Linked DNA regions of Homo sapiens. The protein of the gene in region 1 purifies or fractionates together with the protein of each later gene. This does not show direct contact. Each region holds a gene or a part of one and is shown on either strand. Other genes may lie near its edges.

What was found.
Region 2: the proteins of OR11G2 (region 1) and SLC26A4 purify together in Homo sapiens (affinity purification with mass spectrometry; one large-scale study listed by BioGRID and IntAct). This does not show direct contact.
Region 3: the proteins of OR11G2 (region 1) and ESRRB purify together in Homo sapiens (affinity purification with mass spectrometry; one large-scale study listed by BioGRID and IntAct). This does not show direct contact.

What each region holds. Positions count from the first base shown.
Region 1 is NC_000014.9:20,193,746-20,197,395, forward strand, and holds part of OR11G2 (olfactory receptor 11G2), read left to right. Parts: intron 1-3,650. UniProt on the Homo sapiens protein: Odorant receptor.
Region 2 is NC_000007.14:107,702,229-107,705,878, forward strand, and holds part of SLC26A4 (pendrin), read left to right. Parts: intron 1-2,102; coding exon 2,103-2,157; intron 2,158-3,650. UniProt on the Homo sapiens protein: Sodium-independent transporter of chloride and iodide. Mediates electroneutral chloride-bicarbonate, chloride-iodide and chloride-formate exchange with 1:1 stoichiometry. Mediates electroneutral iodide-bicarbonate exchange.
Region 3 is NC_000014.9:76,498,060-76,502,410, forward strand, and holds the end of ESRRB (steroid hormone receptor ERR2), read left to right. Parts: intron 1-154; coding exon 155-399; 3' UTR 400-666; coding exon of another isoform or gene 667-903; 3' UTR 904-1,803; coding exon of another isoform or gene 1,804-2,166; 3' UTR 2,167-2,635; coding exon of another isoform or gene 2,636-2,662; 3' UTR 2,663-3,778; downstream 3,779-4,351.

The DNA.
Region 1 (3,650 bases):
GAGCTGAGTAGTTTTGACAGAGACTATAGAGCCCATGAGACTAAACTATTTAAGAAAATGTTTGCTGACCCTGGTGTGAGTATCACAGAGATGGAATCCCTCGGTATGGAATTGTTGGCTAGTGTGTGTGTAGTCCAAACGTGCACACCCCTCAGTGGGAGCAGGAGAGCCCAGGGAATGATGTACACTCTGTTACCCTCTGCTTGCGAGTGTTTTCTCCAGTGAATCCTTATTTTATATTTGCAGCGCTTGTGTTAGTGGAGCATCTTTGTGCCTACTTTGTACAACAGAGTGTGTGTTTGTGTGTATGTGTGTGAGAGAGAGAAAGTTTGAATAATAGAATCATGAGATGATGTTGGAAATATTATGAAGGGTCAAACCAAAGATTACATTTTCAAAGTTTTATTTTATTCAAAGAGCATTGGGAAGCTAATTGAAATCTATGTGCAAGGAAAGGAACTGGTCTGATTTTCTTTCTTTAAGGAGTTACTCTGGCTGTGGCATGGAAAACAAGTTACAGACAGGCAAGAGTGGAAACAGGAAGCCAGTTAGAACAGCAGCATCACATGGTCCAGGGGAGAAAAGAGAATAGCTTGAACTAGGATGTTGGCAGTGGAGATGGGGAGAAGTGAGCAGACATGAGACTTATTTTTGAGACAAAACTAAAAGGAATTATTTGTGAATGAGATGTGAGGGTAGAGGAAAAGAAGGAGATACTACATTGAAATAAGTTCCATCAGAAAAAAATTGATTAAACATTTAATCCAAGAAGTCAAATTATTCGACTGTTGAGCAGATGCTTACCCCTAAAATAAAATTTTAGGAACACTAGCAAAAAAATCCTGGTCAAAAATGCCTAAGCATTATTAGTAAGAGTTGTTCTTAATTGATCATAATAAAGTTATATTCCTCTGAATTAGTACTAGTCATATACACTTAATCTTTTTTAGAAAACATGAAGGACCTTCACACATCATAGCAGAATTCTTTTTTGTGTGTTTTTATTCATTAGTAATTCATTAGTTTTATTCATTAGCCATGAATGGCTCGTGTGAAGCTAAGGTAACTTTTAAAACACCCTACAAAGGCAAAGGTGTGACATAGAAATGACTAAATGCTTAATGTCCTTAATCATGAGTGAAACTGGTGCAGAGTGACTTTATTTTAGAAAATAATTAGACCCGTCCACTGTCTGCTTTGAGTTCCCTTTATAAAAGATAAATATGCAGTCTCAGAAGTTTTCTGGGCCCCTAAACAAATGACTTTAAAAGTGGAGAAGCAGAAAAGAAAAAACTTATAGAAAATAGAAGTTTATGGTACAGTTACCAGAACCTATTCCACCCTATTCCCACCAAAAGCCAAGTACATTTAATCCTTATTTTGCTTATATATGTTAAAATAGAGTCTGACAGAAACTGTGGAGACTCTTTTGTCTCCAGGCATCCTCCATGTCACGGGAATTAGGGAATCCTGAGTTACAAATGACCTATAGGGTGTTTTAAAAAATTATGTGGCTGGGCGCAGTGGCTCATGCCTGTAATCCCAGCACTTTGGGAGGTCGAAGGGAGCAGATCACTGGAGGTCAGGAGTTCAAGACCAGCCTGGCCAACATGACATGAAACTTATCTATACTAAACATACAAAAATTAGCCGGGCTGGTGGCTTGTGCCTGTAATCCCAGCTACTCATAAGGCTGAGGCACGAGAATTGCTTGAACCCAGGAGGCGGACATTGCAGTGAGCTGCAATTGTGCCACTGCACTCCAGCCTGGGTGACAGAGCAAGGCTCCATCTCAATAAATAAATAAATCATTATGGATTGTGTTAAAATTTCTCCCTCAGTTCACCCCATCACCAACAAAACTGAATTCTTCCAACATAAACCTCTAAGTACTCACATCTGTACTTGAAAAGGATGTCAACTTGCTGCCGGCATCTTTTGTTTTTGGTCTTATAAGTTATACAGAATTTAAATATTCTGCTAAGAAATTAGTAGACTCTGCAGGGGAGGAAAAAATTTTTTTTCTCCTATCTAGGTTCTTCGGCTGGGGCCTTATAAGTAAGACTGACAAAACACAAATCAACAAGAGAAAAACAAACATAAGTTTATGAGCATACGCATCATAAATACACATGGGAGCACTGGGAGATGAGTAACTCAAAGGTGTGGTTAGAAGTTAGGCTTACATAGCATCTCAGCTAAAGAATAATAATTTTTTTAGAGAAGTGACAAGACAAAGAAAAAGGACTTTGCATTTCTAGGGTGGGAAACTGTGGGAAAATAAATATTATGGACAAACTAATGGAAGATACAGACTAAAGTTGGTAAAAATTGTTATATAGATTCCTCTGGTGCCATCTCCAGGCGGAAAGGGTTTACAGTTGTCTCTGGTAATTTTACCTCGTCCTCCCTGGTAGAGAGGAGAGGAAGGCTACCCTTGCAAAGTTATCCTGTTTCTATGCAAATAATAGGGGGAAGACAGAGAGCTTTTCTTGTATCTGCTTTTTCTCAATTGCCTTCAGCTGGAAATAATCTTATGCCAAAGTGGCATGTTTAGGGGCAGCAGATTCTGCTACCTTAAAACTTCCTGGGTCCCTGTGCCAACTTCAAAAAGCAAAATGTGGATCTAAACATAGAAGGAGGGACACAAACTTTCTTTAGTTTGCTCACTTATGCGCTTATTTAGAAAGGGCTCTAACTAATTCCAAGGCTTGATTACATGATTGTTTCACAAAGATATTCTAATTCATTTAAAACAAATGAAAGGCATCATGCAGATATTCAGCCTTCAAAAGCCACTCTGCCTTGAGATGTTCCTAAGTGGTTACTGGGAGATGGACCACAGCTTTAGTCTAATATCGCCTACAAACCCACTGTTATTTAGAATTGCATGTTATCAATTGTATCCATAATTTGTATTATTGGAATAGAATTATATCTTTAACTATAGTCTAGGCAAATTTATATATTCTTCACGGCAAGCACAGACGTGTTTCAGCATGGCCAGTTAATTCTTTCAGCCTGGTCTACTGAGGATGGCTAGGACTGCTGTCCTAACACAAAAGAAACTGACAACAGCTAATTTCCTCTAATTGATTTGACTGTGTTACTCATGAAACAAGTGAATGATATTATTAAGTTAATAAGTTAACCATTTAATTTAGAATAAGGCCAGTGTCAAAAGTGACATAAAAGAAGTAATTCAAACAGTTTTATGGTCTCATATTACATGGCTACACAGTTTCACTCAGTCTCTGCCACAAAAAGCTGCAATGATTTCACCGTCTGAAAATGAAATTCATTTGTGTAAGAATATATCCATAAATACATATTCTGTTATATATTTATACAAAGGCTCTTGAAGGAAAGTGTTGTAAACATGCCTGAAAATTATAATGGCTTTACACCTAGTAAAATGTAAATGACAGCTTATCAATTTTGGTCAAAAGTTTTCTTGAGCCTATGGTAAAAATGTGAACGCGAGCAAAGAATCAATCCAGATCAATACGTCAGTTTAAAAGAAAAAAAGTGACTATTGACATATCTGCATTCTGTTTTTTACTTTTTACTTTTATTTCAATAGTAAATTTATGCATTTTCTTTCCCAAAATGATTTAAATATAAATCTGATTCCCCATCTATGTTTGCAC
Region 2 (3,650 bases), on another chromosome or scaffold:
TGGGGGAGATACTGGCTTCACCACTTACTAGCAGTACGACCCTGGGCAAGTTGCTTAATCTGTCTATATCTCAGTTTCTTCATCTGTAATATGGAGGTAATGATGGTATCTACCTTCACAGGTTGTTACAAGGATTAAATAAGCTAATAGATATAAGGTGTTTAGAAGAGTGTCTGGTTCAGGCTGGGCATGGTGGCTCACGCCTGTAATCCCAGCACTTCGGGAGGCTGAGGCAGGTGGATCATGAGGTCAGGAGTTCAAGACCAGCCTGGCCAATATGGTGAAACCCCGTCTCTACCAAAAATACAAAAATTAGCTGGGCATGGTGGCGCACACCTGTAGTCCCAGCTCCTAGGAGGCTGTGGCAGGAGAATCGCTTGAACCCGGGAGGTGGAGGTTGCAGCTGAGATTGTGCCACTGTACTCCAGCCTGGGTGACAGAGTGAGACTTCATCTCAAAAAAAAAAAAAAAAAAGAATATCTGGTTCAAAGATACTCCCCAGCAAATTAATTCACATTTATTATGTTTTATCTTTCTGAGAATGTATAACAAGTGGTATATGAAAAGAAAAAAATGGGCAAAAGTTTATTAAGTATTACATTTCTATTTGTTATGTTAACAGCAACAGGATAAGGAATACCAGGTGTATGTTAGGACTGGAAAAGCCAGGCATTATTAAGAGGTTAGAGTAGGAAGCAGGTCAGACATCTGGAAGGTCAAAGCAAGAGTTGAGGAGTATGCAGGATAGAAACATTAATGATATCAGAAACCAGTTATGCAAGCTGAAGTTCATTAATTCTGTCAACAAATAGATGTGAAATGCCTAATGTGTACTGAGCACTCTGCCAGGCACAAGAGACTAGTGATGAAGTAGACACAGTTTCTACCTACGTGGGACTTAGCAGTCTGGAGGAGAAGGCAAACATTAAGTCATCTTATAAATAACAATTGTAGTAAGTGCTCCAAAGAAGATGAATAGGACATCACCTGAAGCATCAAGTTCAGTGAAGCTTCAGGTAGGTATCAAAAGGGTCAGGCAGAAAAGTAAGCAGGTCAAGACACCAACAATCAGATGTAATAATATAAAGCTGACTCCTAACTGAGGTTCCACTTAGCTAAGGCTTCTTTGCTACCTCTATAAGGGGAGGAAATGATTCCAGGATGTGGGTACTAGGTAGGTAGGGTAGAGAAGTGATTGTGCTTGGCAAAAGAGTATGAGAATATGCTGACAGGTTCTGTTCTAGTTCTCTTAGCAGATTTTGTTATTAGCTCATTTGAAATCACTCTTGTTCTTTGTTGTACATTTCACTCTAAGCATTGGCTGAGATCCATTGTAGACTATATTGGCCAGAGAGTTCAATGAATTACTTTTGGGGACAGTCTTAACATATTTAATGCCAGAATATTTCCCACACAACGAATATTTACTTTCAAATATTATAATGACAGTTATGATAGCTAAAGAAGACTCCAAACTTTATACTTGAACAGAGGTCTTGATTTGTTTTCCTCCATAATTCTCAAATTCTCTTTTATTATTGACTATGGGTCTTGTGTCTTGACTTTTTAAAATTAAATGTTTATTTTGACATAATTGTAAATTCACATGTAGTTGTAAGGAATAATATTTAGATCCTATATACCCCTTACCCAGTTTCTCCCAATGAGTAACATCTTGTAAAACTGTAGCATAAAATCACAGTAGGACACTGACATTCAAAATAGAGGCCTTGACTTTTAGGTCAATAGTAACATTTTGAACCCGATAAGCATAGCCACACCCATATCTCTTCTCCAATCAGCAGGGCCTATATTAAGAAGCCTCCTGTACTCTCTTCTTTCCACAAATGCTTATTTAGCACCTCCACGCTATCAAGTGCTGTGCTATTGAGCGCTGGATGTTGCCATCTCTTGAGATATAATCCTAATTATACCATTACTGTAGTTTGAAAACCTCCATGGTTTTGCAATAATAACCTTTCCTTAAAGTCCTGATTAACCATGAAAGTAATAATGTTTCTCCTGAGCAAGTAACTGAATGCTACTGAATTATGGGCAGATAAGGTTGTTAATTGTTACAAACTCTCCTTTTTTATTTTTAGATTGTCAAAGAATTCCAAAGAATTGATGTGAATGTGTATTTTGCATCACTTCAAGGTAAATACATATATCTACATATCTACCTGTAAGACTTTCCCGTAAGCCCTTTCTCCTATCTGGGACTGTGGTCACATTATGTCTGAAGGCCTTTTTTTTTTTTCTTTTAAAGATCTCAATTGTCATTATTTGCAGTTCTGGAATCTGGCACTGCTTCATTCCATAAAACAGAATAAGTGTTCCAAGGAACTAAGCAGGAGTTCAGTATTATACACAGAAAAGGCCAAAGACAGCAAAAGCAAGCAACAAAGAGTATATTAGTCCATTCAAAGTTACTTTCTTGTAAGTCAGAGACAGTGAGACAGAACAATAGGAAAATAATGGATTAGTTAACATGAGGTCATGTCAGGATACTTTTTTGTATGAGGATTATTGCAGAGGAAGCTTTATTATTATGCCAACTGGAAATTTAAACTGTCCTGTTTTAGGAAATTTGCTATTACCTCTCTCTCCTGATTTCTTCAAGTATCAGATAACAATTTAGTTTAGGTTTGATAACTTGAAACTTTAGCATGAGTGACTCCATTTTGATTTTTAGTCTTGTCTGTTGTCGTCTAGTGCGGGAGCTTAGTCTAAAACAATGGCCTTTTATTTTTATTTTTTATTTTACTATGTGCCTGTGCCTTGCATGACCCCAGGATGGGCACAGCTGCTTGGCCCCTGAGCCACCGAAGGCTGCTCTACTCCTTCGTTCTGGCTACTAAAAGCTGCAAAGCTCTGGGAGGGCAAAGCTCAAGAAGACTAAAACAATGGCCTTTACCATTTTTGTTTGATGATTTTCCCCGTTTTGATCAGGCTCTCACCTAGGTAAGAGTGAACAAAATGTAGGAGATCAGTGCTACTCTGTTACCATCATTTTGGGTTTCTGGTCTCAGGAGGTCATGTGTAGCTTATGGTGCCCTCCTCATTATCATGTATGTCTCTGAGTTTTTGTTGTTTCAGAGAGAGACCATTCGATGTCTGACAGGTGGCTTTTTGGAAACATTTAAAACTTTGAGAGGGTATAATGTACCAGGAAGACTGCTATTATGACTATCAGGGAGATAATACCAAGGGTTTATAGTATGCTCCTTAGCCAGGATTCTCATGAATCAAACCAACTAAAATTGAATAGCCTGACAAGGAGACTACCTGTTTTAACCAAGAAGTCTTCTCTGTAGTACCTGATGTATTTATATATGTGGAACAAGAAGTGTCACCCAACTGCACAGATGCTTCCTTGTTGAGTTAGCAGGTAATCTAGCATTCCATGACTGGTTAAATTAAAGCAGAAAGTGTAAGTTACCCAAAGAAGCTACTCATTGTGAAGTTTTAACTACAGCACTATCCTGCCAAGTGAAAGAGGTAGGCACAAGTAAGGGAAAATTAAAAGGGATAAGCATCTTATGATAGGGAGTCTTGTTCTGACAGTCTTGGAGCTGTCTACAGCATGAAGTTGACAACTTCTTGTTTTGGTTTGTAGTTTTATTGTCTCTAGTTGTGGCATCCAGCAT
Region 3 (4,351 bases), about 56 Mb from region 1:
TGACCTCTCTGGGCCTCAGATTGGCTCTCTGTGAAGAGAGGGTTCTGAAGATACCCCTGCCTGCCTCCATGCTGCCTCCTGGACCCCAAGATGGCCCCCACACCAGGCAGCACTCCCTGGCCAAGCCTGCTAATGCTCGTCCTTGTGCCTGCAGATTCCATGTACATCGAGGATCTAGAGGCTGTCCAGAAGCTGCAGGACCTGCTGCACGAGGCACTGCAGGACTACGAGCTGAGCCAGCGCCATGAGGAGCCCTGGAGGACGGGCAAGCTGCTGCTGACACTGCCGCTGCTGCGGCAGACGGCCGCCAAGGCCGTGCAGCACTTCTATAGCGTCAAACTGCAGGGCAAAGTGCCCATGCACAAACTCTTCCTGGAGATGCTGGAGGCCAAGGTGTGATGGCCCCGCACACGGACCAATGCCCACCTACAGACAGACAAACGGACAGACCGAGGTGGAGACCTCCACAGCCACCAGCCTCCACCTTCAACCCCTGTATCATGGCTCTGAGCTGTCCCAGAGGCGGGGGTTTCTCACCTCCTGGCTGTGTGCAGACTCCCGGGTGCAGTGGGGTGGGGGACGGGGATGGGGGGGCAGGGGTGTGGGGCTCGACTGTAACTGGCTTTTTCTTTGGTATGTCTTTCCTTCTCCATGGACGGTGCGGAGGCCTGGGCCAGGGCTGACTCCCTTCAGGAGTGGAGGCCACTGGAGCAAGTGCCCTCTCCCCTCCACCGAGCCACCAAGAGGCAGCATGTGCATTTCCTAACTCCCTTGCCCCCTCCCCCATCTGTGGCCTGGGTGGGCACTGCTCAGGCTGGATACCACCTGGAGGTTTTCCTTCCGCAGAGGGCAGGTACGCAAGGGACAACAGTATCTTTCTTCCAGAGGTCCTACCTGCTCTGAGATCCTCTGGGGCCGGTCAAGAGGCCCCATACCTTCCACAGTTTCCACTCAGCTTTCAGCCAGGGGGTACCCACAGGAGAGCAGCGGCTAGAGCTCAAGTGCTTCCTGGGCACCCCACCCCTCGGGGCCTACCCCCCTGCCTGTCACCCACCGCGCCGGTGTCCACCTGTCCTCCTCCTCTTCTCCTCCCCCCGGGAGTCCCCCGCTACTTCCTGACCCTACCTCAGAGCTCACTCACCCAGTGGGTTCAGCCAGCCACAGCGACTCCAGGGGCTGTAGACAGGAACGCGCTGGCACAGAGAAGAGCGGGGACCACACCATCCTCCCAAGAACCCTCTCCCTCTTCCTGCCTTCCCCCTCTCCCTGAAGGGCAGGTCCAGGCCAAGTGAGCCTGTGAGAAGCTCAGGAGCCTGGCTCCATCCAAGAGCACCCCGGGGGGAGGATCAGGACAGGATGGACAGAGGCCCAGACTCATCTTTGCCAAGCACAGAAAGGCCGAGCAGCTGAGATAAGTAGGCAGGGGAGCCCCAAAGGGAGGGAACTCAGCGGGGTGGCCTGCCTCATCCTTCCTGGCTTCCCTTCCCTGCACTCAGCATCATGCCACAGGGCTAGTGTACCAGTGCCACAGGAGGGGTGCCCTCCTACCACACTTGGGCTACCAGAGGTTTGGTGTAGCTCCCCTGGGCACCGCGAGCACGCCAGCTCTCTGGCAGGACCCCTGCAGTCCCCCTGGCTGTGCCAGGTAACCAACCGTCTTGGTTTGTCCAGGACGTTTCTTTATCCCAGGAAACTCCTCTACCCCAGGCACACGGGGACAGTGGGTCACTCTATTTCTGTGGATGGCCGTGAAAGTTTTCACTAACTCAAGGGGCAGCCCTGAACACCCATTTGTGCTCACAGGTTGGCCAAGAGCAGCTTAGAGGATCTCCCAAGGATGAAAGAATGTCAAGCCATGATGGAAAATGCCCCTTCCAATCAGCTGCCTTCACAAGCAGGGATCAGAGCAACTCCCCGGGGATCCCCAATCCACGCCCTTCTAGTCCAACCCCCCTCAATGAGAGAGGCAGGCAGATCTCACCCAGCACTAGGACACCAGGAGGCCAGGTAACTTTCTGCAGCTTTTCCATAGAAGCCCTGGTCCCACCTCCTTGGCTCTACCCCAGGAACCTCCCGGCCTGGGCTTCTGGGCTGGGACGTGCTGAGGTCATCCCAGACAGGAGGGAGGGCTGGCTGAAATCCACAAACTGCAGAGCAGCTCTCTGATGGTGTCCCACACAGAAAATGTTAAGGATTTCAAGAGCCCTCCCAGACCAGTGATGTGTCCCTCCGGCTCCCCTTGCCTGTGGGGAATCGGGTCTGAGTCACTTGATGAGTAGGCACTGGAGCCGTTACCCAGGATGCTGCGGCCCTAGCCCTCCATGCAGCCCATCTTCCCTCATTTGGGTGGAGGCACACATTTGGGGCAAAGGCCCCTTCTTGGCATCAAGGAACACCAGCTACAAACCAAGTCTAGCACAGTGTTTAGAGGCTCTGCCCTGAGGTTCTGCTCCGGAGAAACCTTCACAGTAGAGACCTTGGGGTGTGTGCTTTGGGACTCCCTCAGTCTCTCACTGTGCTGTGTCCTTGCAGCGGGGCCGAGGTAGCACCCTGCTCTGTCACTTCCTGCTCAAGCTGGAGGACCCAGGCGGCAGGGCATCATGCCCAGCTGGCATCTGCTGTCTGTCTTTTCTAGGGAAAGCATCTCTGGCTCACCATGTAACATCTGGCTTGGAGCAAGTGGGTGTTCTGCACACCAGGCAGCTGCACCTCACTGGATCTAGTGTTGCTGCGAGTGACCTCACTTCAGAGCCCCTCTAGCAGAGTGGGGCGGAAGTCCTGATGGTTGGTGTCCATGAGGTGGAAGCTGCTTTTATACTTAAAACTCAGATCACAACAGGAAATGTGTCAGTAACAATGGAACTCCATCCAATGGGAAAGTTCCTGGTACTGAAGGGGTCCATTGGACACTCAGAAAAGAAGTTCAGGGGCCAACTTCTTAGCTGGAATCCTGGCCAGATGAGGACCCTCTCCGGGGAAGGGAGAGGACTGACTTAGTGGAAGGTGGTGAAGTGAGGAGAGTTTAGGGGAACCTTCCCCCAGTGGAACAGATCTCAAGTTTACCCTAAACCTGCCATTTCTGGAAAATCTGTAAAGAGGAAACAGCCTGTCTCAGCTGTACTCTCATGATACAGGTCATTTGAAATGAACCAAGAAATAAAACATGAAAATCCAACCATGGAGAAGGTGGTATGGCTGGGTTTTGTTTGGTCCCCTTGTCCTTATACGTTCTAAAGTTTCCAGACTGGCTTTGTCACTTTGTGAACTCGTCATGTGTGAAAACCAATCTTTGCATATAGGGAACTTCCTCGGGCCACACTTTAAGAACCAAGTAAGAGGCTCTCAAGACTCCAGCAGAGTCGGGAGGCCATGGCAGCGCCTTAGAGGAGCTGGAACCTGCACCCACCTGTGTCGGTGGGGGGGGCCTCCTTTCCCCATAGACTCTGCCCTCCCTCTGTGCAGATGGAAGTGGCAGGGGAGGGTGACCAGCTTGTGACAAGAAGACTGAAGGGTCCAGAGTCCATGCTCACGGAACAGCACCAAAGAAAAGCACTATGTGGAAAGATTGTTTTATTTTCTAATAATGATAATATGGCTGGAATGGCTTCTTAAGATGTATATATTTTTTAAAATGGCAGTTCCCCATTGCAGCATCACCTACTTGTATGTCTTTCTGCCTCTGTATATGTTCTCCCAGAAACCCCCATGTAAATCAAATGCCCTAGGATGCTTCCATCCTGGTCCCATGTATCTGGAATCTAATAAATAAGGAAAGGAACTATTGAGTTTCTTCACACATTGTCTTTCTGGGCTGACTGTCCCCCAGACAGCACTGCCCTTGGGTTTCAGGCTGAGGCTAGGAGAGGCCGTTGGGAGAGGCAACCCAGCCTTAGTGTTCCCTGGGAAGTCCCATGGTGTCATTTTAAAACATGTTCACCAGCAAAGCTCAGGAATGCAACTGGAGAAGTATGCTGCAGGTCTGAGAAGCTCCCTGTTGCTTTTATGCTTTTAATATTAATGGTAAGGCAATCGATTACTTTCATTAATGCCAGAGAAATGAGATATCAGATATATGTGAATGAAAACCAATTCATTACCTTAGGATTTTGAATTGCATCTGTGACACACACAACACCGGATAGCACAGCCCACATGTTATTCCAGGACACACTCAGGACCAGTGAGAAGCAGAGGGGAGGGCCTGAAAGAGATCAAAGAAGACATTTCAAGATGCCTTTTGTTTCAAGTAAAAGTTACCTTAGCTTATACTGGCTTACTGGATTTATATGTGAGTCCGGAAGTGGGGTAGGCATCAGGCAGGGTTTGATCCAGGGGTTTACAAAGTCAATAG